Linked DNA regions of Homo sapiens: region 2 is linked to region 1. Evidence: fine-mapped expression QTL. A gene starts in region 1. The other region holds a variant in brackets. All regions are shown on one strand. Distances are between the middles of the regions.

Evidence for each region.
Region 2: its variant is fine-mapped to the expression of ZDHHC2 in pancreas (GTEx, PIP above 0.99). The same link has a PIP of 0.9 or more in unexposed skin.

What each region holds. Positions count from the first base shown.
Region 1 is chr8:17,150,094-17,162,030 of GRCh38, forward strand. ZDHHC2 (zDHHC palmitoyltransferase 2) reads left to right here and starts at 6,389. Exons shown (of 13, transcript NM_016353.5): 1 at 6,389-6,760. The coding sequence starts at 6,631. It also overlaps the pseudogene RPL9P20. RefSeq lists a silencer at 5,848-7,207.
Region 2 is chr8:17,177,992-17,189,928 of GRCh38, forward strand. It overlaps ZDHHC2 (zDHHC palmitoyltransferase 2), which reads left to right. Exons shown (of 13, transcript NM_016353.5): 2 at 6,798-6,824; 3 at 8,340-8,434. Among named protein-coding and RNA genes, the nearest start is that of ZDHHC2, 27 kb to the left of the region's middle. The variant C/T (reference allele first, on the strand shown) is at 6,204.

The DNA of each region.
Region 1 (11,937 bases):
ACATAGGGGACTTTTTTGTTTTTTACATTTACACATGTAAGCCTTAGGTTGAAGAAATCGATGTATACTGTTCTATGATCCAACTGGCACCTTACTCTTCTTTTCTCCCCCAAATCAATAGGTCTTTTATTGCATCATTTAAATATCACAAATAGGTCTTAGGAATCATCCGGCATCTTGTTTCTGTACCTGGACTACTCTTAGGTCTTATTCAGCAGCCTGCTTAACTGTTCCTTTTTCAGAGACGTAAATACCATCCACACATTTTCTGATATCCTTGTTTTTATTTAATTGTCGTGGCTGGCTGAATCAAAGCAGCTGAATTTGCAACAAGATCAATGTCATTTCCTACAAGGGTTAATTCATCTTTCTGGGCTTGAGATACTGAACAAGCAACACCTGGCCACTGCCAAACCCTGTGGATTTATTTTTCACCGAGGAAATTTCAGAACTCAACCAGAGACCTATTCTTCCGGATAACGACATTGATGGAGAAGTGAGTACACACAGAGCTCATCTTGCAGCGGAAGCCCAGCACAACATCCTTGACCATGTCCTGTGCATGACTACAAATAGTGCAAACGGCAGCCAGTTCCTTTCTGTTTCCCCACCATTTTTTGTCAGTGCCGGAGCCTCATTTTTTTTCTTTCCAAGGAGACTGAGGTCTACATTGATGTGATTGAAGTCCATCCACAGGGTTCCTCTAGGGCCTTTCGCAATTACTGGGTATCCCTTCAAAGTGATATCTACATTTTCTGGAATATGGACAGTCTGGTTGCAGAGAATGGTTTTCATTCTCACAGTAGACACAGCGAAAAGGTGGTTCTTTACTCTTTGGATTCCTCTTCAAAGGAAGAAATTTCCTAGTACCAAAACGTAAAATTGTTTTCAACTTCCTGTTACCTCTAATTTTTGTTTCTATAAAACAGTGAAGGGATTATTACATAGGGGACTTTTTTGTTTCTTACATTTACAAGAATAAAGCCTTTTGAATATTCAGACAAGACAAAATGTCTAAACAGTTCTGTCCAACAGAACTTTCTTCAATGATGGAATGTTCTAGATCTGCAGCATCCAATGCAGTAGCCACTAGCCACATGTGGCTATTGAGCATTTGAAATGTGACTATTGCAACTAAGAATTTCCAATTTCATTTCATGTTAATTTTAACAAATTTGAATAGTGGCAACAAATGTTACTAGTGGGTACTTATTGAACAATGCAGGTCAAGAGAGTGTGATTTGAATGGCACCAAGTAAGCTTCTTCACCCCCAAATTCCTGTATCCCTATTTCTCAAGGTGCCTTGGTCTCCATGAGCTGAAACTAACTCTTTAAGCAATGAGATGCAGAATGAAATTAAAACTACGTGCCATTCAGAGTTCTTGGTTGTAAACACAAGTCAACTCTAGTTGACTTACATAAAAAATGTTATGCAGTTATATAGGCACTCCTCCAAAATCAAAAGGAAGCCTGGAGAATCAAGCTTGAGCTGGAACAAAGGAAGCTGGTGCATGGCCAAGATCTTGCCACCAAGAACAGTCAACCTAGGATGCCATTGCTGCTCTTAATATCCCTGGACACTTGCCACTACACTGCAGAATTCTGCTGCCCTTGGTCACTCTCTGCTGGCTGTTCAGCTCTCAACTCCACAACGGCCACTTCTAATAATCTCCAGTTGAACTTCGGACATTGTATCACCCCTTAGAGATCCATAGTATAGCTGTGTCAGTCCACTGGAAGGACATGTCTGCTCACCTTTTGGGTTCATAGACAGTGCCCCTCCCCATTTAGGGGCAAAGAAGGGAAACAGTGTAAGCAAAAATATTATTTCAATGAAAATTTCCTATTTTATTTCCAAAGAGATTGACCTTAGTGCGAATTCTAAAGAAGTGCACGCAGAATCAGAACGATTTACTATATAGAAAAATGCTTTAAGTCTTTTAAATTTTTTGAATAGGGTTGTCGTTTTTATTAATCGTTAGCCATTAAATTATAATATAAAAACTGTATAATTATAACATAACTTTTTGTTTTGAGAAGGAGTTTTGCTCTTGTTGCCCAGGCTGGAGTGCATTGGCGTGATCTTGGCTCACTGCAGCCTCCACCTCCCAGGTTCAAGCAGTTCTCCTGCCTCAGCCTTCCAAGTAGCTGAGATTACAGGCACCCGCCACCACGCCCAGCTAATTTTTTGTATTTTTAGTAGAGATGGGGTTTCGCCATGTTGGCCAGGCAGCTCTCAAACTCCTGACCTCAGGTGATCTGCCCGCCTTGGCCTCCCAAAGTGCTGGGATTACAGGCGTAAGCCACCGCGCCTGGCCAATTATAACATAATTATAATTAGTTACAATGATATATAATTGTTCATGAAGTTATAATTCATATTTATAATTGCCTTGCTTAAGCTAACAGTTGATAACTATTGAAATCTATGGAGAAAAGGTGAAGACTGCTGCACTGCTTGGTGTGTGCCTGCCATCTAGTGGCAGGACACATTAATGCTACCGTGAAAGCCCTAGTGTGCCTGAAAGGCAGGTTTGCCAGGGACAGTTTGCTCCACTTTACATTGTCCCAGTGTTTCGACCCAATCAACTGTATACAGAGACATCCTTAGGCTTTTGAAATTATCTCCCATTTTATTCAATATAATTACAGCTGAATTGCAAACATAAATCTCTGACAGCCAAAACATATCTAAGCATTACTTCATTCCTACATTCCCTAAGCGCGATTCCTTTTCTTTTATTTTATGTATCTCCAGAAACAAAAAGTGGTTTAGGCATGCTATTCTTCTCCCACAGAGAATGTTTTGACCGCTATTATAAACATGCACATTGACACTGGAGTCACTGATGTCATGGACTGCTGCCTTCTAAAGAGCTCTTCTCCCCCAAAAGAGTGATAAGATTAAGTTTGAGAAAATAATGAAAGAGAATCTATCAGTATTCATGCAGACCACTCTAGTAAGGATGGGAGAGCCATTAGTAAATAAGATATAGATCCAGACCTCAGCTTCATTGCTTCCAATCCTTGTAAGATTTAGAACTCCTTGTATTTGTGAAGTATCATACCCTCTTAGCAAACTCAAGACAATCAACGTCTCATATACATGAGACTAATACGACTGACCTCATATCTTGTTGCAATGTTGCCCTCTAAGAACCCTTCCAAAAGGAAGGAGTAAATATCAAGCAAGTGTCCTAATAGTTTCTGGTAGGTGTTTTGGCTGAAAAGCTTGAGATGAGGTTGGCATAGGCAACATTAAGGGGGATCTGTGTTCTCTAGCAGCAGGTGCGTCCACGCCTTCCTGGGTTTGGCTAGCATGCTATGTTTGATTCATACTATGCAAGGGACTATGTTAAAATGGTAATCTGGATCTGCAGGCAGAAGGAAGATTAGCAGTATTAATCATGAAAGTACGGCAGACTTGAGGTTTGGGAACTCAAGAATTTGGGGGACTGGGCTGGAGGGAGAGGAGGAACGTTTAAGGTTCCTGGGCTGGGCACGGTGGCTCACACCTGTAATTCCAACACTTCCGGAGACCGAGGCGGGCGGATCACCAGGTCAGGAGTTTGAGACCAGTTCGGCCAACATACTGAAACCCTGTCTCTACTACAAATACAAAAAATTGGCCGGGCACGGTGGCGGGCACCTGTAATCCCAGCTACTCGGGAAGCTGAGGCAGGAGAATCGCTTGAACCCGGGAGGCGGAGGTTGCAGTGAGCCGAGATGGCGGCATTGCACTCCAGCCCAGGCAACAGTGCGAAATTCTGTCCGCCCCCCCCCCCCAAAAAAAGAGAGATTCCTTCATGGGGCAGGAACTGAAAATAAGAGTTGTGAAAATTTGAGAGGTGAATGATGTTGCTAGACCGCTGAGTGCAAGGAGCATACAGGCAGAGGCCTAGCGAGGATGGAGTCATGGTCATTAGGGACTGGATGAACCCAGCAAGGGGGCTTTTCTCCCGTTCTCAGTCACTCCCCTCACCCCCCTCCTTGCCTGGCTGTCCGCTCGTCTCTTCTCTTCCTTAGCGTCGCCTTCTTCCTCCTTTGCTGTGGCTGGCTTTCTTTTTCATAAGTGGTCATATCAGTTTAATCACAGTTATACATGAAACCTACAATTTCTTATGCTTATTGAACATTTAAATTAAAATTCGTGAGTTGAATCTTCTGTATTTCTAAACAGTAAGTCTCTAGTGAAGTTTCTTCTTGTCTATGACCTTCAAATTATTTTTTCTGTTTATGTAGTCCTAAAGAAAAAGAAAATAAATCAAAGGCTCTCTATACCTCAAAATAAAAGCTCTCCTTCCACTCTCATCAAAGACTAGTATCTAGAGATTGGCTACTCACCAAAGAGCTTACATTTGTGCGTGCTGCTTATGCCTAATTAGAGACTACGCAGAGATCAATCCTGTTATCTTGTGGCTGTGGAGATGCTTCTTCCTAATCCAGACTTTTTCTGTATTTAAGATAAGAGAACTTGAAAAACCCAGTAATAGTAGTATCCTTAAAATGGCAATAACAAAAAAAAGTTGAAAATATTTCACAAATATTTATTATAAATAGGAACAATTAAACAACATCTTAGATGAGTAATAAAAATGTAGCTCCTTCAAAGATATGACACCTGCATACTTTTCCAAAAGGGTAGATGATGTGAAAACTGGGCAGAATGCTATTCCATTTCCGATTTCAAGACCCTGTAGGACTGTGAGAGGAGGAAGAGCACAGGGCATCGTCGCATCCAGGATCTACAGAGGCACTATTTGCACTTTCTCCACCGTTTCCAGTATGGAAAATCCGATTCCTTCCTTTTCATACCTTGATGGTCTCTATTGACCTTCAGTCACTGATTTGCTTCTCTTTGTGAGGGTATTTCAGTCCCAGGAGGAAGTTTTAATTCCTGTTTTTTACTCTCTTCTGATTGGGGGGGAACACAGGATTAATATTCATGGAAAACATTAAGGAATCCAGAGAAGTTTTATTTTTACATTAATATACAGAATATCCACAGAGAATATAAAAGGCTACAGCAAAATCAAGTGATTCACTGGGACATAATATGTCTCTCTTTTCAATTATTTAAAGTCCCACAGAAACTTGACTGACATTTTCTATGCATTTTTGAAGAGAAATGGAAAGAGATGTGGGGTGGGGGGCTGTAACATAGTAGCTATTTCGGGAGAGATTAGCTTGTTGTGTAATCCAGTCACAGAAAGATAATCGCAGACACCAGAGCTAAATTTCTTTGACTGAATTCATGTAAATCAGTATTTTTTTTTTACTTCTACACATGAATAAGAAGTAATTTCATTCACTGTGGTTGCTGTGTGGTGTAAATACACATATTCACTAATGTTAAGAAAAATTGTGCCTATTATGTATAGTAGTGATGCACATAATTTACACACACTCATTGATTGAAATGTTTCCCTGTGGATCAGGTGCGTTCATAATCAGATGAAGGAAAAGCAAAGGAGGCATTTGTTTATTTTCCATTTCGTGAATCATAAAATCAGAGGTTTGGGCTGACTACCTTTAGGTTCCCTTACGGTGTTTTTTGGGAACCGCTTTGGAGTCAGCTATCTGCTAAGTTTGGAATTGCCACCACGAAAGTAAACACCGTAGTGAGGAGCGGGTTGAGGAAAAGAATAAATAGTTGGTGGAAGGAACCACCGTACTTGAGGGAGGGGACAGTGGGAACGGCCCCTGTCACAATCATTTATCCAAAGCATCAACATTCTCAGAGCAAAGAACTTGTGTTTCTAACTCCAGAGGTGCCTGGATTCACAGCCAAAAATGCTTCTTCCTCGCTCTCCACAGCCCCTCCCATGCCAGACGCCGGCTCGGCACCCCCTCTTCGCTGTGCATTTCTGCTTCCCCCGAAAGCCCGAGTAGTAAAGGGAGGCTCCTTGCGGCCCCCGCGGGCTCCCAGGGACCCGCAAGTTGAAGCGCGAGGGTTCCACGCGGGCTGCGGGGACGCGGGCCTCGGTGCTGCAGACTTTCTCAGGGCGCCTGGGTCGCGGCAGGCGCGGAGTCCCGAGCGCAGCAGCTGCTCCGCCGGCCTCGCCTCCGACCCCCGCCCTGCGCCAAGCGCGGAAGCGCTCGCGACCTAACTGCCCCGGGTGCCGGGCGCCTAGGGAGGGGCCGCCACCGCCCGCTCCGCCCCGGGGGCCTGCGCCCAGCAGCCCCCGCCTCCCCGGAATCCAGAGGCCGAGCCGGAGGCGGCGGGGCCACGGTGGGAGCCCGCGAGGTGGCCCGAGCGAGGGCCCCGCATCCCCGCAGAGCCCGCCCGAGGGCGCAGCCTGCCACGCCAGGGGAGGCGGCCGGGCGGCGGGGAACGGCGGGGGCGGAGCGCAGCCTCCCGACGCCGCCGCCTCACCGCCCCCCTCCGCCTCCTCGGCCTCCGCTCGCAGCCGCCGCCTCCGCCTCCGCCGGGCTGAGGAGCCGGGAGTCCGCCGCGCCGGCTCGGGGCTGCGGGATGGGGAGTTAGCGCCACGGCGGCGGCAGTGGCCGCAGCGCACCCCGCCGCCGCCCAGGAGCCCGTCCAGCCAGGGGTGCCGGGCCCGCCCAGCCCGCCCCGGAGCCAGGCCCGCGGGCGGCGGCGGAGCTGGGCAGGTGGATGCGGCTGGAAGATGGCGCCCTCGGGCCCGGGCAGCAGCGCCAGGCGGCGGTGCCGGCGGGTGCTGTACTGGATCCCGGTGGTGTTCATCACCCTCCTGCTCGGCTGGTCCTACTACGCCTACGCCATCCAGCTGTGCATAGGTGAGTGCGCCCCCCGCCGCGGCGCCCCCAGCGCAGCGCAGCCCACCCCGACTGTCCCGGGACGCTCAGCCGCTCCTCCGCTCTCGCCCCCCGGATGCGCCCCGGGCGCTGCCAACCTGCCGCGTCCCGCCGGCTCCGCCGCTAAAAGCAGCCTCGGGGCAGCTTCTTCCACGCGCACGCCCCTCGCCCTCCCCTCCCAACTCTCGGGTTAAGGTGGCGCCTCCGCCCCGCACTCGCCGCCGAGCCTCCCGCCGCCTTCCGCTCACCGCCGCCGCCTCGGCCACACCCCCTAGAGGGGCGGAAGGTCCCCGGGACCGCTGTGGAGAGGGGAGGCCGAGGCCGGCGAGGCGCGCCGGGGGCTGAAGGGCTGAGCTGGGCCCGGCCCCGAGCTGCGCCAGACCCGCGCGGGGGTGCTGGCCTTGGCGGCGGAGCTGGATCCCTTGCTGGTTGGCGTCAATGCACTTGTTAAAAATTTGTGACAGCGCTCAGGGGCGTTTTTGCTGCCTTTATGATTTGAGGATTGCCAGTTGGACACTTTTCTAGTTTAAAAGGATGTGGAGGAGGTGAGCTACTAGAAAGTATTTTTGAGGACATGTGCAACACACTAAACCATAATTTAGGTGTTTGAACAGTAGGGAGAGAAAAAAAGAGGTGATCGTCTGAGGTTTTTACATCCAGAGAGCGAAGTGGCTCCAGTCCGAGTTCGAGGTTCCTGAATTGGTGGGTAGGATACTTTTAATGCTGAAGATTAAAATTTTTTAAAAAGTTGATTATTATGCACAAGTAGGGAGTACAATGATGTCGCTTAATGTAAGCTGGTTTCTACCTTCAGGGGTTTTATGAAAACTGATCTGGGTTATCAGAAAAAGATGTTAAAACAGAAAATGACCTTTCTGCCAGTGACTTGTGAATGCTTTCTGTGTTTGGTGCTCCACCTAACAAAGTGTCTGTTTTTGCCCTACCAAGTGCTAGCTTTGGGTGGGACGAGGGAAAAGATGAAATAGTGGCCTATTATATTGAGCCTTCACAAGCTCAGCATTTTCAAAGCCTCAAGATTCAGACATAAAATCTTGTCTGAAGCCATCTTACCTCAAAATGTTGCGCCTTGTGAGAAAGTGTCATAATAATACATCAAAATAATCACTGATGTAAGTTGTAAGAGAACCGAGACTTTTATTTCATATAGTTTTAAAATTTGCTGTTATTACTTGAAGGGATTTAGAAACAAGCTTAATAGTCCAAAAAAAAAACCTTGAGTCTGTTGTTGGGAAAAGATGAGGCTGTACAGGCATTATCATGAGGATGCATTTAGGTATGCAGTCGTCAAGTCATCTAAAATATATAGGAAAGGACGTGTAGTAAATTTTGTATTAACTGTTAATCTTAAAATAGCTTGCCTTATTGAGATAGACTGTATATGTTACGTAACTGTTGGGAACCTTTGTTGTGTTTCATTCCTTCGTCCTCTTAAAAACAGTGACCAGTATCGATTAATATAACCTGCAAAGAAGGGACATCCTAGAAGGCCTTCATTATCAAAATAGCCTATTCTCCTGTATTATCACATTAAGCTAAGACGCTTATCTTGGTACAGTGTCTCCTGTCCATTAAGAGGAAGCATTTGAAGGCAGAGAGAGCTCTTCTGCCCGTTAGAAGGATGTCTGCTCCTAGCTGAGGTGCTATATGGCAGATCTTATTATTGTATTGGGTAGACAGGTGATGGGGAAGGAACTAAATGGAAAATTGGTATTATATCTGAATCGTATGTTTATATGTACTTTCTGTAAGTTTAAGACAAATCTAGAGTATCCATAAAATCCGCATCAGTATTTTAGTAAGTGACGATTTGACTAAGAGGAAGAATGCCTCTTTTTAAACTGCCTAAGTGGCGTGGCCTGTTATTGATACCTTATCTATCACTTCTTGTCCCTGCCTGCCTGGCGCAATGCCTGTCTGCCTGGCGTAATGCCTGTCTGCCTGGCCTGGCGCAATGCCTGCCACATTGAAAACAACAGTAAGTGGTCTTGAATAAACAAATAAATGATTCAGAGGCACTATCTCCTAGGTTTTCAGAAAGTAGCTTTTATATTTTTATTGCTGTAGAAACAAAAAGTAATTGTTATGAAAGATCTAGATTCTAGAGTCTAAGAAGGAAGAACAAGTTGAAGCTGAATTTGATTCTAGAGACCATGGCAGTTTATGAGTGGCAAGCTTTGCATAGCCTTGGTCGAGTGGGAAGTTGAAATTTCCTTATAGGCACTGGGAAAGATGGCGACTAGTGTGACTGACACACAAAACCAGACTCCCAGACTCCTTTCCTTTTCACAGACAAAGCAAATGGAAATACCAGCCCCCACCCTACCCCCAGTATTAATCACATCTCAGACTGCCCTGCCCTTTGAAGATTCTTTTTCTCTTGGAAGTTGCCATTTACAAGCAGATTTTCCAAATTTCTTCCATAAAACATTGGCCAAGGTTGGGACCAGAGTGTGGGGGTCGAGGGCTGGGAACTGGATCAGGTAGCAAATGGAATAGAAGAAACAAGGTGATTTACCCTGGTCCTCCTTCCACATCTGCTCTCAGCTAGGGATGACCCTGAATATAAATTATTCTGTGCCCTTTGCTGAATGAACTGCAATTTAGGAGTAGTGCTTATCCTGGTATCCTTGGAAACTGGAGATAATGATTCTCATTACAGTTAGTTTCTATATTTAACAACGTGGATGTATGTGGCTCTCTAGGCACTTTTTCAGTTAGCATAATTTTTGCTTAGTGTTTGTATTTTATAAAAATAACCTCTCTTTTTGGAATATGTGTATATGTAAAATATATGGGATGTACATATATTGTGTGAGAGTCAAGTATTTTTGGTTAAGTCAGCTTCCTATTCTGCCAAAGAAAAGATCACAAAAGACAGTTATACTTCTAATCATTTGGACCACGTTTATCTCGTTTGTTGATTAACGAGGCTCTTCTATTTGTATTCCTCCCCCTCCATCCTTTCCTTCTCTTACCACTCCTTTTCCCTCTCCCCTGTCCCTCCTGTCCCTCTCTCCACTCCTGGCTTCTTTTGTGTTTTAACTCTCTTTGCTCTCTTTAGATATTAGGTTGGTTTCCGTCAAGTAAGATAAACTCAAAGGTAACATTTGTACGGGGAACTTTAGGATGCACTATGAGAGGGAATGAGGGAGGTCTGCAGCCTCAGGCATGCTCCATTCAGCGAGCACACGACGTGGTTTATGTTTTACAGATCCCTTATGGCTGCTGCTGTGTTAACTTCGCTTGTTGAAGAAGGTTCACTGAAGTTTCCCCTTTTAAGTGCTAACATTTAAATTGTTTTAACTATTTCATACCGTTTTCTTTATTTCAGATTTACTGAAAAGTTTCAATAGTACAAGAAACTTCCACATACACTTGTGTAACCAGTTCAGTTCCCATTTTTCTTAAATATATTACTTTCCTGCTCCTTAGGCAGGTGCTATGGGACGTTTATGATGATGTTGCGCAGTCATGTAGTTCTGAATTTGCTTACGGTTTTAGTTACGTCATTTTAAACGATCATGAATTTTCAAAAGCTTAAAGGTCATCCAGGCTAACCCCTTCTGTATTTTTAAACGAAAGAGTTAAACTAAATTCCAGAGTTGCCACAAGTTCAATGTCCTTCCTCCGAGTTACCTAGCGGAGGTGTCAGCTATGACCTTAGCTGCTGTAATGCAGATGTCCAGATGTCTCCTTTTCCCAGCAAACCCCTCTCCAAATATCTTAGCCCATTGAAGTTATGCAGCAACTCTTTTTAACTTTATTATCGTTTACAGAGAGTTGACAGAGCTCTGAAAATAAGCCAACAGTCTTTACACAATTTTAGAGATTTAAAGGGCTTTGTAGTTTGGGGCTATATAGTACATATTTTTGGCTTTGCAAGCCGTGTGATCTCTGTTCCAACCACTCAACTCTGCTATCTTAGAGAGCGGCCATAGAAGATACTTTAACAAATGGGCGTGGCTTTTATTCAACAAAAATATTTGGCCAATCTTGGCCCTTGGGCAAAAGTTTGCTGAGCTTTGGAGTATGTGGGAAGCTAGACCACTAGAATCTTGAGGTTTTACTCGCAGTTTTGCTGTCTTTATTACTAAACATCCTTCAGCAGTGATTGCAGCCTGTTATATTCCACAGTGATTATAATACTTAGGGATCAGTTTGAGAGATACGCTGCCATGTTTTCATTCTTTTAAACAAACAAGAAAACAAACATCCCTAAGAACAAAATACACAAAGCCTCCTACTTGGATTCTGTGAAGTTATGACCTACCATTCATTGAAGGCCACTGCAGGCTCAAGGATAGAGACTGCTGGGGCTGTCAGTTGTTTTCCACCATGAAATGAATTTGAGCTACACAGAAGAAGAAATGTTTTCTTGTTATTGATTTTAAACTGTTGCTTTATATTATTAATATCTTGATATTCCTGATACTTAAACTATTACTTTAAAAACTGTGTAGGACAATAAAGCATTTTTCACAAAAAAAGAACAGGCAGTAGATCTTGGGAATACAGATGTTCTATTAAGTTGATGCAAAAGTAATTGCAGTTTTTGCCATTAGTTGGTTTTGCCAACTGTTTTAAATATTAAAATAGTTTTAAGTGGAATGTAAGGCACATCCATAGAAAACTGATGTATGCAAAACATTTAACGCCTACGTCACCTTAGAAATGATTACTTATTGGCCAGCACGGTGGCTCACCCTTGTAATCCCAGCACTTTGGGAGGCCAAGGTGGGAGGATCACTTGAGGTCAGGAGTTTGAGACCAGCCTGGCCAACATAGTGGAACCCTGTCTCTACCAAAAAATACAAATATTAGCCAGGTGTGGTGGTGCGTGCCTGTAGTCACAGCTGCTCGGGAGGCTAAGGCAGAAGAAATTGCCTGAACCGGGGAGGCAGAGGCTGCAGTGAGCCGAGATCACACCACTGCACTTCAGCCTGGGGTGACAGAGCGAGACCCTGTCTCAAAAAAATAAAAAATAAAAAAAAGAAATTATTAGTTGTTGGCAATATGATTCAAAATATATTCTGTGACTTTTCTTGATATTGTTGAATATTTTAAAGATTTGAATTTATGTGAATAGGGTAATAAAAACTCAACATTTCTTCAAATCAAAAATTCAAATGTATAAAACA
Region 2 (11,937 bases), 28 kb after region 1:
AAATACCCCAAAATCACATTGTTTTAGAAACACTTTACTGTTCTTTGCTAAGTCAAAAGGGGGAGTTCATTTTTTGTCTATTATGAAGGTGTAGTAGCACACAAGTAGCCATGTAAGTATCTGAAAGCTTGAATTTTGGATATATTTATGACTAAAAGTTCAACTAGATTTAAGTTACCATCAGTTTACTAGGCTGCTGTATCTCATTAGATACCATTTAGGACAGTAACACTTTAATAATAATCACCAAAGCCAATTTTTAAATAATCAATTGGTAAAAAATGTACGAGTGGAATAACCGTTGAGATGATCTCCTGCTTTTAATCAAGGTTGAATTTAAATCATTCTAGACTAAATTAATATATATAAATCATTCTAGACTATATTAATATATAGTATCTATATATACACATACACACACATCCTATTAAATCTTTTTCTGTGGAGAACCCTGACTAATACATAGGGCTGGAATACTTTCTTCATAAAAGGCTAAACAGTAAATATTTTAGGCTTTGCAGTCCATACTTTCCCTGTCTCAGCTACCTAACTCTGTCATTGTAGCACATAAGTAGCCATGTAAGTGAATGGATGCATACATGTTTCAATAAAACTTTATTTATAGAAACAGGCATCTAGCTGTGTTTGGACCAAGGGTTCTAGGATTAAATGATTGCTTGGTAGTTCAGTCAAAAGAGATAAGGGAGGTATACATTTGAAAGGATGTTTCATTCAAGCCAGGTTGGATTAAGGAGCAGTTTGTCATCCTTTTCTATATTATGGGTTATTACTTTGACAGTCTCACTCTTTAACTTCAATTTTACCTGTTTTATTTTTACACAAGGATTTCTTAAAAAACAATTAATGTTATAACAAAAAACTGTCACTCTTATCAGTCTTACCAATTCTAAACTGAGGACTGATTAGTTCAGCCTTTTTATATGTTGTCCTACTCTGTTTCTTTCTCTCTTTTTTTTGAGACAGGGTCACGCTCTGTTGCCCAGGCTTGAATGCAGTAGCAGGATCACAGCTCACTGCAGCCTCGACCTCCTGTGCTCAAGTGATCTTCCCACCTCAGCCTCCCGAGTAGCTGGAACCATGGGTGGGCACCACTATGCCTGGCTAATTTTTAAATTTTTTTGTAGAGATGATGTTTCACTGTGTTGCCCGGGCCAATCTCAAACTCCTGGCCTCAAAACTATGCTCTCACCTTGGCCTCCCAAAGTGCTGGGATTAGAGGTTTGAGCCACTGTGCCTGGTTGTCCTGTCTTTCTTACGGGAATGATCAGTGGCGGTGGAGGGGGTGAGCGTAAAGCGCAGCCAGATAATACAACTGGTGACCCAATCTACAAGCTTTGTAGCATCGATGATGGTTCTAGATTTTAAGATGAAGTTCTTTTTTTGTTTTCTTTATTTCTTCTTCTTTTTGTTTTAAGAAACAGGGTCTCACTCTATCGCACAGGCTGGAGTACAGTGATGTGATCATAGCTTAGTGCAGCCTTGAACTACTGGGCTCAATCAGTTCTCCTGCCCCCAGTCTCCCAAGTAGCTGGGACCACAGGCAGTGCCACCACACCCAGCTAAAAAAAAAAGTTTATTTGTAGAGACACAGTCTCAATGTGTTGTCCAGGCTGATCTCCAACTCTTGGCCTTAAGTGATCCTCCCACTTTGGCCTCCCGAAGTGCTGGCATTTCATGCGTGGGCCGCCCAGCCCAAAATGTGATTCCTGAAGGCCATAATTTTACTTTTGGCAAACAGGAACATTCTTGGTAACTATAGTAGTAATTTACCTTTTTCACTTTCTCTCTTCCTATATACCGTCAGGGCCAAGAAAGTGCTGCAGTTCCCACAATTAATCACAGAGGAACTTGAAGTTCTGGAGGTATATTGGAAGATTAGAAATTGCTAAAGCAAAATATTATCATTGTAGGGCATGGACCAAAAAGAAATTAGGCTAATCCAAGATAAAATGAGGCAAATAAGTGTTTGAAATTAAAATTAAAATTGTGATTCACAGTGTTCCTATTGTGTGTATTTAGATGGTATGAATGGTGCCATCCACCAGATGTAGGATTGGTAAATATTTTAGTGTAATAATAGCAATGCTTTTAATTCCCAGGAATAAACTGCACCTAACTTCTTTGGGGTGATTATAAGATTTAGGTCTTTATTTTTTTTTAAAGTAATTGTTTTTATTCATTAAGTTAAACAGTGCCTATCCAAAATAGATTCTTTCACATTTAAGTTCTCAAAAGGACTAACTGGCACATCAAGATCGAAGTTTTAACATCTCATCATTACTCTGTGTTAAGAATGAAGACCACTTTTTTGGTTTAAACAAGTTTCTGAAATGACACATCCGTTTAAAAAGGCAATTGACTTATAAGATAATTCAGATTTACATTATTTTTCACCTTTTATTTTCACTCGCCAAGTCTATTTTTGTTCAACATTTTGCATTTATTTCTTTCAGGAGCCTGTACAAATATTACTTTTCTCTTTGTAATTTGTCTTCCTTGTTTAGCCCCCTTTCCTATACGTTATACATTACAGTTAATATTATCAAGATGAAAGATGATATATTATAATTGTACATTCATGGGGCTTACTCTACACAAGGCACTGTGTTAAGTACATTGTTTTATTGTCCCTTTGAATTCTCGCTACAGCCCTAATGCTACTGCTGCAGCAATCACCCTCATTTTGTAGTGGAATAAGTGGGATAGCTTATGTAAGCCAGCAAGTGGCAGAGGCAGGATTGGACCTTGCCTTCTTTATCCCCAGCCATTGCTCTTTGGTGCTATTATGCTTAGTAATAATCTCTTTTCCATTTTGACAAATTCAACTATAAAAAAGTACAATACTAAGGAAGAACCAAAACCAAGCTGGGGGTGGAGGGAACCCTGTGAACTTATAGACCCTGTCTGTCTTCAAAGTTGCTTGAAGCCCAGTTGAAGCCAGTATCTCCCTCAGCTTTTTCCTTTTTAAAGGAACAGGAACCATTTTGTCTTCTCCCTCTCTCCTCTCTTTAGAGAAGTGTTTTCTTCACCTCACAGAAGAGATTACTTTCGCTTTTTTCAACTATCAGTTGAGTGCTATGGTGTGCTAAGCTAACATGGTAATAGAAATAACTTTTCTCTTGAGTTTTTCATGCCCACAAAAGAAAAATGAATACTTCTCATATGTCCGCTTTGATATACCAGTTTTATGTGATTCAAATTAGTTGTCATGGTCTGTTTGTCTAAGTCAGTCTCTTACTCAGTAAACATTAATGGGGCAGATGCTCTATGCCAGTTCTTGTGCTTTAATGAGGAATTAATTTTAATATGATCCAGCAGAGCTGGAAGTTGTAACGTTTTTGTTACAGGCAGGAAATGTTTAAATTGAAAATAAAAGAATTTCTAAGGTAGAATTAATGTGCTATTCGTCGTGACTTTGAGAATAAAGCTCATTTGCTTTAGTAAAAACTGAGTAAACCTCAGTTTTCTGTTGACAAAAATTGAAATAACTATTAATTTATCTCAATAACTGGTTTAAAGGAAATGAGATAAAGAAGGCTATACAACACTTGAAATTTCTCTATGGTAAAAATTGAAGAATAGGTATCAGCATCATTGTTAAATCAAACAAATTGAAATTCTGTCTGTGAAGTAAGAAAATTAAATAATCCTGGATTAAAACTCAAAATCCACATTAAAACCAATAGTTATTTTTAGAAGACCTGTCCCAATTATGTTCAGTATTGCTATTTAGTTTTTGTATTGTTATAAATAATCAAATTATATTTGATTACCATCTATATTGTTTCAAAAATGAGTCTCTATTTTTCATATGTTATCTTTATATACATAAATATTAGAAAAGTGTTTGAGGCTAAATTTGAGCAATCTTTTCTTGAACAGTTACTTTTGAACAAAAATATTTGCATTTGACAATAACTTTGTATTTTATGTGTTTTTACTCTGTGAGAAAGGAAACTTTGAACTTGACAACTCTGCCATTAAACTGAAAATTACAAGGTAAATCACTGATTTACTAATTAAGTAACCATGGTTGAAAGAACATTCATTTCCTGAGTATCACAAAGCAAAACCTTGCATAGTCCATATATCTGTTAATGAAATAAGTTAATTTGCAAACTTTGATAATGTTACTTAATCAGTGGCAAGTGATAAAAATGTTGCTAGTACTTATTAAATCATTTAAAATAGCTATATGCAGTTTTATTTGCAATATATATATAACAGATATGAGATTTCTGTCCAGAATATATAAAAGGCTCTCAGTAACTAAGTAGGCCAATAGGAAAATAATCATTCACATAGAAGAGAAAGGAAATCCCAATCATAGTGTTTTAAAAATAATGCCAAACTGCACTAATAATAAGGGAAATGAATGCTAAAATAATGATTTTTATTTAGGCCTATGATGTCGACAAAAATTAAACAGAGTTACGTTTACAGGAAATTGAACCGGCTCATAATCTTGGCGAAAGTGTAATTGGATACAGCCTTTTGAACTGATCCCTTTCATTCTACAAATGTTACACAATTATTTACTATAAAGATGAATTTATGTGTAAGTTGTGTACTTTTAAAAAAATAGAACATCTGTGGATTTTGAATTACATTTAGGGAAAAGCAAACTGTGAATGGCAATAATAATAATAATAATAATAGCTTTAAAAACAAAGTCTTTGAATGCATATCAGGCTTATAGAGTAGTGGTCCAGGTCAAAAAGATTAGCAACTCGTACCAACTACACCTTTTTTTTTGTTGTTGTTTTTGAGACAGAGTCTCACTCTGTTGCCCAGGCTGGAGCGCAGTGGCGTGATGTTGGCTCACTGCAACCTCTGCCTCCCGGGTTCAAGCGATTCTCCTGCCTCAGCCTCCAAGTAGCTGGGATTACAGGCGCGTGTCACCACACCTGATTAATTTTCTGTATTTTTAGTAGAGACGGGGTTTTGCCATGTTGGCCAGGCTGGTCTTGAACTCTTGACCTCAGGTGATCCACCCACCTTGGCCTCCCAAAATGTTGGGATTACAGGTGTGAGCCACCGTGCCCAGCCCCTAACTATACCTTTTTCAAAAATGTCACTTTGTCTTAGTTTTCAGTTCTCTCCACTCGAGTCAGTGGAGTAGCAAACACATTTGTATGCAAGCACCAGCACCTCTGGAATGGTCAGTAAGGGTCATTCATATATAAATGCACAAATGGAGTCAAATTGCTTTTCCTTTCCTTAGATTGGCTCCACTGAAGGATTGGAAATTTTGATCCAGAAAAGAGTTGTCAATTTTGGAGCACTTTTGAAGACAGGGTGTAGTCAGTGTCTAGAAAGAAATGCATACCTGTGGCGGTAGGTTCAGATATTAAAAAACAGGCTTGCCTCAAGCCTCTCCTGTGCCCTCAGATGAGCTGCTTCAGGGATTCTATGAGAAAGCAAACTCTGACTAGCCTCTGACTTACAAGCGGACTTGGAGAACAGGCCATTTGTAAATCGAAGGTCATCCAGGCCTGCCTGTCTCATTCTGGAGATCAGAAATGTTAAAAGGAGTGGAGAACCTAGGAAGCATTTACAGATGCCACATCTACGTTAGTAAGAGATCTGGAAACCATATATTAGTTGGTGTAAACTAGAACATTTAAGGGGGACACTATAACATCAAATATGTGAAGATCTGTCATTTAGATCTTCTGTTTGTTGCTATGGTTTGGAAGCCTCAGTATCACAGGTAAAAGTCACAAAGCAGCCAATTTCAACACCCTGGAAGGATGAATTTTCTTATTCTTAGGGCAATCCAACAGTGGAACGGGCTGCCCTCCAAGAAACTACGGGCTTCTGCTAGCTCTAGAAATGCCTGAACTTATATTTGGTAGCTCTCTTGGGCAGGAGATTGGTTGGACTGAGCAATCTTAAAAATTTCTCACACTACCCTCTGGTTCCAGGCTTCAGAAGGCAGCGCATTTCATTCCAGCACCAAGGCCTGAGGTCCCGTGCCCTTTTGAAAAGCTGAATAAGGACAAAAATATACAAAGTCAGACTTGCTACAGCTGAGATAGGGCAAAACTTCCAAAGACTCTAGTACAAAGAGAGAGACCAAATGGGAAAACAAATAGACAATACAAAAGGCGTACATATGTCTTGATTACTAAATACAACTTCTTGCCGCAGCTTGCTTTAGTGCTTGTGGCCCCTGTCCT[C/T]ATCTATAATACCTGCTAGCTTGGAATATTTACAACAGCCGCTGAGGAGTGGCAGTTTCCCAGCACTGCCTGGCCTTTCGTTGTGCAACAGGGAGCAAGTAAAGTCACTGTGCATAAGCATTTGTACTTTTAGAAATTAGGGGGAAAAAAAGTGTGTGCTGTGGACACATTTTATTCTTTGTGGAAAGCTCACCAGGTGGTTGCCAGTTTATCAAGAGCAATAAATGCCTGCGGAAATGTAATGACCTGGAGAGCATTGCTTTTATCTGAACTCTATAGTTGGAAGGAAAACCAGTCAACCAAATGATACAGAAATAAGACCCGCAAGGGGCACACTTGACAAGTTTTGTTCCGCAGGACAGGAGCCAGGGCTGAAGTGCGCAATGGAGGCATGGCTGACTGCAGCCTCCAGCCGTTTCCTGCACCCTCTCCACACTGTGCTCACCTCTCCTCCAAATAAAGTTGAATAAATATTTAGAGAATGTTGGTTTGAAGGGAAGCCACATTATTAAGCTACTTAAATGCCTTATGTCTGTGTCAAGCCCCGTTTGCCATAAGCTTCATGTAACCTATTACCTTTTTTTCTCTTTACAGTGTCCATGGAAAACACTGGCGAACAAGGTAAGCTAGATTATATTAATGTTATAGATTTTTTAAATAGTTTGAAAAAAAATTGTATTCACTTAGATTTGGTTGGGATTAATAAATTGTTGTTTGAGAATGTGGAGACAAGCTAGGGTTAAAGATGTCTCATTTCTCTTAAGTTTGCAGATTGAATTCTGTCAGACCCTTGGCAAAGAATTCTATCCTGAAATGGCTGTCATTGTGCCAGAGATTCTTAAGGCTTTGAGGTATAGGGATATCAACAATTTCCTTTCCTAATTCAGATTATGAACTTATAACTGAGTCACCTACATAATTTATGAAAAATATTGTTGGCTTTAGTCATCTCACACCGATTTAAGTGCCTTATTGAATAATTCAAATTTTTAATGATTCTATGAGTATCCTCATTCTTTAGAAAAATTTAAAATTGCTATTAAAGTTTTAAAATGCCAAATATGCTATATTTAAATTAGCATATTTTATTCAATGATATCTTACAGAATTAAATTGTGTATTAATGTATTACCCAGAAGGAAGCATTATCACCATATAGAAAATTAATATTTAAAATTTGGGCCGGGCACAGTGGCTCATGCCTGTAATCTCAGCACCTTGGGAGGCCAAAGCGGGCAGATCATTTGAGGTCAGAAGTTCAAGACCAGCCTGGCCAGCATGGTGAAACCCTGTCTCTACTTAAAAAAAAAAAGAAAAATACTAACATTAGCCAGGTGAGGTGGGGCATGCCTGTAATCCCAGCCACTCAGGAGGCTGAGGTAGGAGGATTGCTTGAGCCCCAGGGGGCGGAGGTGGCAGTGAGCCACTGCACTCCAGCCTGGGCGACAGAGTGAGACCCTGTCTCAAAAAAAAGGAAAGAAAAGAAAAGAAAATTTTGGATAGTATTTCAAGACTTTATAACACCACCCAGAGTGTGTTTATATGCATTACTGAAAAAAGTATTCAGAACACTTTTTTAAAACAATTGTCCCATGTAATAAATAAGACACTTGAACTCCCACTGAAGGAAATCTCTTTGTCCAGATGTTCTCCATTTAAATGTGTTATCATTACACCAGCTTTGACTAGAGCCAAGCAAATAAGCAAACAGCTTCTCAAATAGGAACTGCCTTTGTTATCTGTGTCAGTAAAGCAAAGTTCTTAAAGCCTGAGTGTTTTAACACTTGTTTTTAATGCTGTGTTTGCTGTTTAAATTTGGAGGCGTAACTGCCTCATTTTTACAATTTAGAAAAGGTCCTTGTTAGTGATTTTGCCAATAGATGGTCTGTCTACAGATGGGAGGCTTTTATTCATGGGCATAGATCTCATTATGCATTTAGGAATTTTTGTAAAAAACTCTTGGCTTTGGAAATAAATTCGTTGAGTTGTGTTTATTCTAGTATAAAGTAAAGGAACTTTCATAATGTATTATAATTGGTAATTTGGTTATTTTAAAACAAGCAGATCGGTTGTGACTGTCATAATTTTAGTATGTATTTGCATATTATAATGATAATTATGTTTTTCTCATTTTAGTTGTGTGCCTGATGGCCTATCATCTACTTTTTGCAATGTTTGTCTGGTCATACTGGAAAACTATCTTTACATTACCAATGAATCCTTCAAAAGAAGTAAGTTAAAATATTAACGAAATTATTCTAATAATAGAAATCAATAATACTGATGTATTATTGAAGAACGAATTTTATTTTAATGTTGCAAACTTATTGAGTTTAGTGACTTTTTAGATTAAAAAAATTAGTATTTCTGTTAATAAATACTTGAATTTTCACCTGGAAATATTAGTGTTTTCACCAGATAAGCACTGCATTTTCTGTATTGAATCTGTTATGAATTCCATTTCCACTTTAGAGTCAGACATCAGGATGGATGGATAGGTAGACAAAGATAGATAATAAAATAGAGCTAGAAGGTAGACATAATTCTATGATAATTATCACATTAAAGGTGTATTAGTTGGTTATCAGCCACCAGAAACAACAACAACAAAATAATGGCTTAGCTAATCTTCTCTGCATTCAAAAAGTCTGTAGCTAGTCCACAGCTTCCAGGTGCCCACACTCCTTCTATCTTGTTTCTCTGCCACGTGTAGCCTCCATTTCCAAGGTCCCCTCTTGGTCTAAGGGGGACTCTGCGGTTCCAACCATCACATCTACATTGTAGCCAGCAGACCAAAGAAAGTAGGAAAGAGAAGTAAATGTCCTCCTCTTCAAGAACACTTTCTAGACATTGCTGACGTCATTTCCACTTACATTTAGAAGTTGGTTATATGGCCACATCTACCCACAAGGAAGGGGGGAGTGTAGCCTTTCTTCTCGATGACCATGTTAAACATGAGAGAAGAAGAGAAATATGGTTACTGAGAGACAACTAGCAATCTCTGCTTCAGAGGGCTTTAAGTAGAGTGATGGATCAAATTTGCATGTTGAAAAGATCATTCTGTTTGTTTCTGGATCATGCATCCTGGTTAAACGTTCTTGGAGCAAAGAATTGTGTCTCACTCATTTTTGTATCCTTGGCGTATAGCCCAGTACATTGTTGAATAAAAATATACTTTGCTAACTCTAATAACAGTGTAGTTTTAGTAAGCCAAGTTTAAAAAAAAAAAGCATCACTGTAGACTGTTTACTGAAGTAATCAGTTTGAAATGCAACTTTGGTCAAAAAAGCCAATAAATATGCTATTTGGCTTGGGAGAGGATGGTAAAAACCACAGATGTTTGCGCAGAATTAATGGTATGCCTGGCTTAGAATGCCTATCTATTGCCTGTTTTTCTTCTATTCTCCACTTCTTTTTCTATCCCAGTCTTTTTTTTTCCTTCCTCCTACCATATTTGCTTCTTTTCCATCATCTCTCTTACCCTCATCCTGTCCCTAGTAGTAGGTTTGAAGAAAAATACTGACTTCTATCATAGGTAGTCTCATCCACTCTGGTAGTTTACATACAACCTCTGTTTTGATAACTCCCAAATCTGTTTTGAGTTCTAAACTCCCCCTTAAATTTCAAACTTATGTATCCCCCTGCCAAGCATAGCTTCTTGATAATTCCACCAACATCTCAAATACAAAACATCAAAAACAGACGTCATCACCTTCTCCTTCCCCAGACTGTGAGTCATCTGTTTCTTATGTCAGTTAATGGGCAGTTTATCACTGCTCTAATTCTGGGTCTTCATCATCTCCCTTGTCTGAGATATTGTATTCTTCTCCTGGTAATTTGGTTATTTTAAAACAAGCAGATCATTTGTGAATACCATAATTTTAGTCTGTACTTGCATATTATAATGATAATTATGTTTCTCTCATTTTAGTTGTGTGCCTAATGGCCTATCATCTACTTTTTGCAATGTTTGTCTGGTCATACTGGAAAACCATCTTAAGGTTTTCTGTTTACAGCCTGGCCTACCTTTCCTTCCCAGAACCCCACAAAACTTCATCCAATACCCTGAAGCTGGAGTGGTCCTCCTAAAAACCAATGTAACGCCTTCCCTCTACTGCTTGTATCTATTGTGATTCCATATATCCCACAGGGGAAAGCTCAGTCTCTTCTGCCTAGCAATAGCAGCTCTTGTCTCAATTTCTGACTTTATACTTTATACTCTAGTAGTTCTTAACTACACATAGTTTCCTGTATACAACATGGCATTATTTCCTTTCCAAAATATTCTTACCCCTTTCTCATGGAAATAATATATTTATTTTCCATTCATACTGGCAGCTCCTTCTTGGCCTCCTTTGCTGGTTCCTCTTCAGCTCCTAGACTGCCAAAGCATTGGAATGTTCCAGAGCTTAATCCCTGGACTTCTCTTCTTATATACCTGCATTTATTCCCTCGTGGATTTCATTGAGTTCTGTGACTTTATGTGTCACCCCAGTGCCGCAGCTCTCAGATTAATATATTAGCCTGGTGCTTGCTAATAAACGCCTGACACATTTCCAGCTCCCTATTTGACATCTAATAGAAATTTCAGGTTCAACACAACTGAAAACAAACTTCTGATTTCTCATTTAATTCCCCAGTTCTTCTAGTCCTAAAGTTTTCTTATGTCAGTAATGACAGTTTCACTCTTCTGTTCAGGCCAGAAACATTGGTGTCATCCTTGGCTACTCTTTTTCTCTCGGACGCCACATCTAGTCAATCAGAAAATTCTATACCCTCACCCTCAGAGTATGGCCACAATGTGAACTCATGTGCCGCACTGCTCCCTGCTCCCACCCCGGTCCAAGCCACCATCCTCTCTCATTTATAGATTTGCAGTAGCCTCTTAACAGGTTTCTTTTTGTTGGGTTTTTTTTTTTGGTGTTTTGTTATGTTTTTTTTTTTTTTTTTTTGGCCTCCTCTTGTGTATTTTCAACACAGTAGCCAAAGTGATCCTTTCAAAAGACAAGGCAAATCTCTCACCTTTTTGATGTCTTTATACAAATGGTACCTTATCATTGAGGCTGTCTGTGATGACTCAACATAGAATAGCAACCCCACTACCCTCGGCTTTCCCTGCACCTTACCTTCCTGGATTTTTCTCCATAACATTTACCATCATGGCAACACACTGCATATTTATTTGTTGAATACTTTTGAAAATACACCATCGTTAGAATGTAGGTTCCATAAGGGCGTGAAATGTATCTTTGTTCACTGCTTCATCACCAGTGCCTAAAGCAGTGTCTGACCTATAGAAGGTACTCAAGAGATACTTTTTAAGTGACTAAAAGTAGGGAAGAAGTTATTCATACACATGCAGGTTTATTTTTATGGCCTTGGCAGGAAGTTGAAGTGACTTCTAACTTCTCTCTAAAATTATATATGACATCATTGGCTAACAGTGAAGACCTAAGTGGGTTAATTAAGGGTTGGGAGAGTAGAGAAGGTTTGAAATAGTGGATTGGACAGAGTGGCAAAAGGATATGAAACACACGGAAGAAAGAACACAGCATTGAAGGAGCAGTCAAATCGATGACAGTGACATTATAACGGTATCAGGCTTCATTGTGTGATTTTTCTACAAAAGACGTACCTTAGTCATACAACTGTTTGAGATAGATACTATTTTTTACTATTTTACAGATGGAGCCACTGGCTTTGAACATGAAACAATTAAGGTATCTAGTGCTAC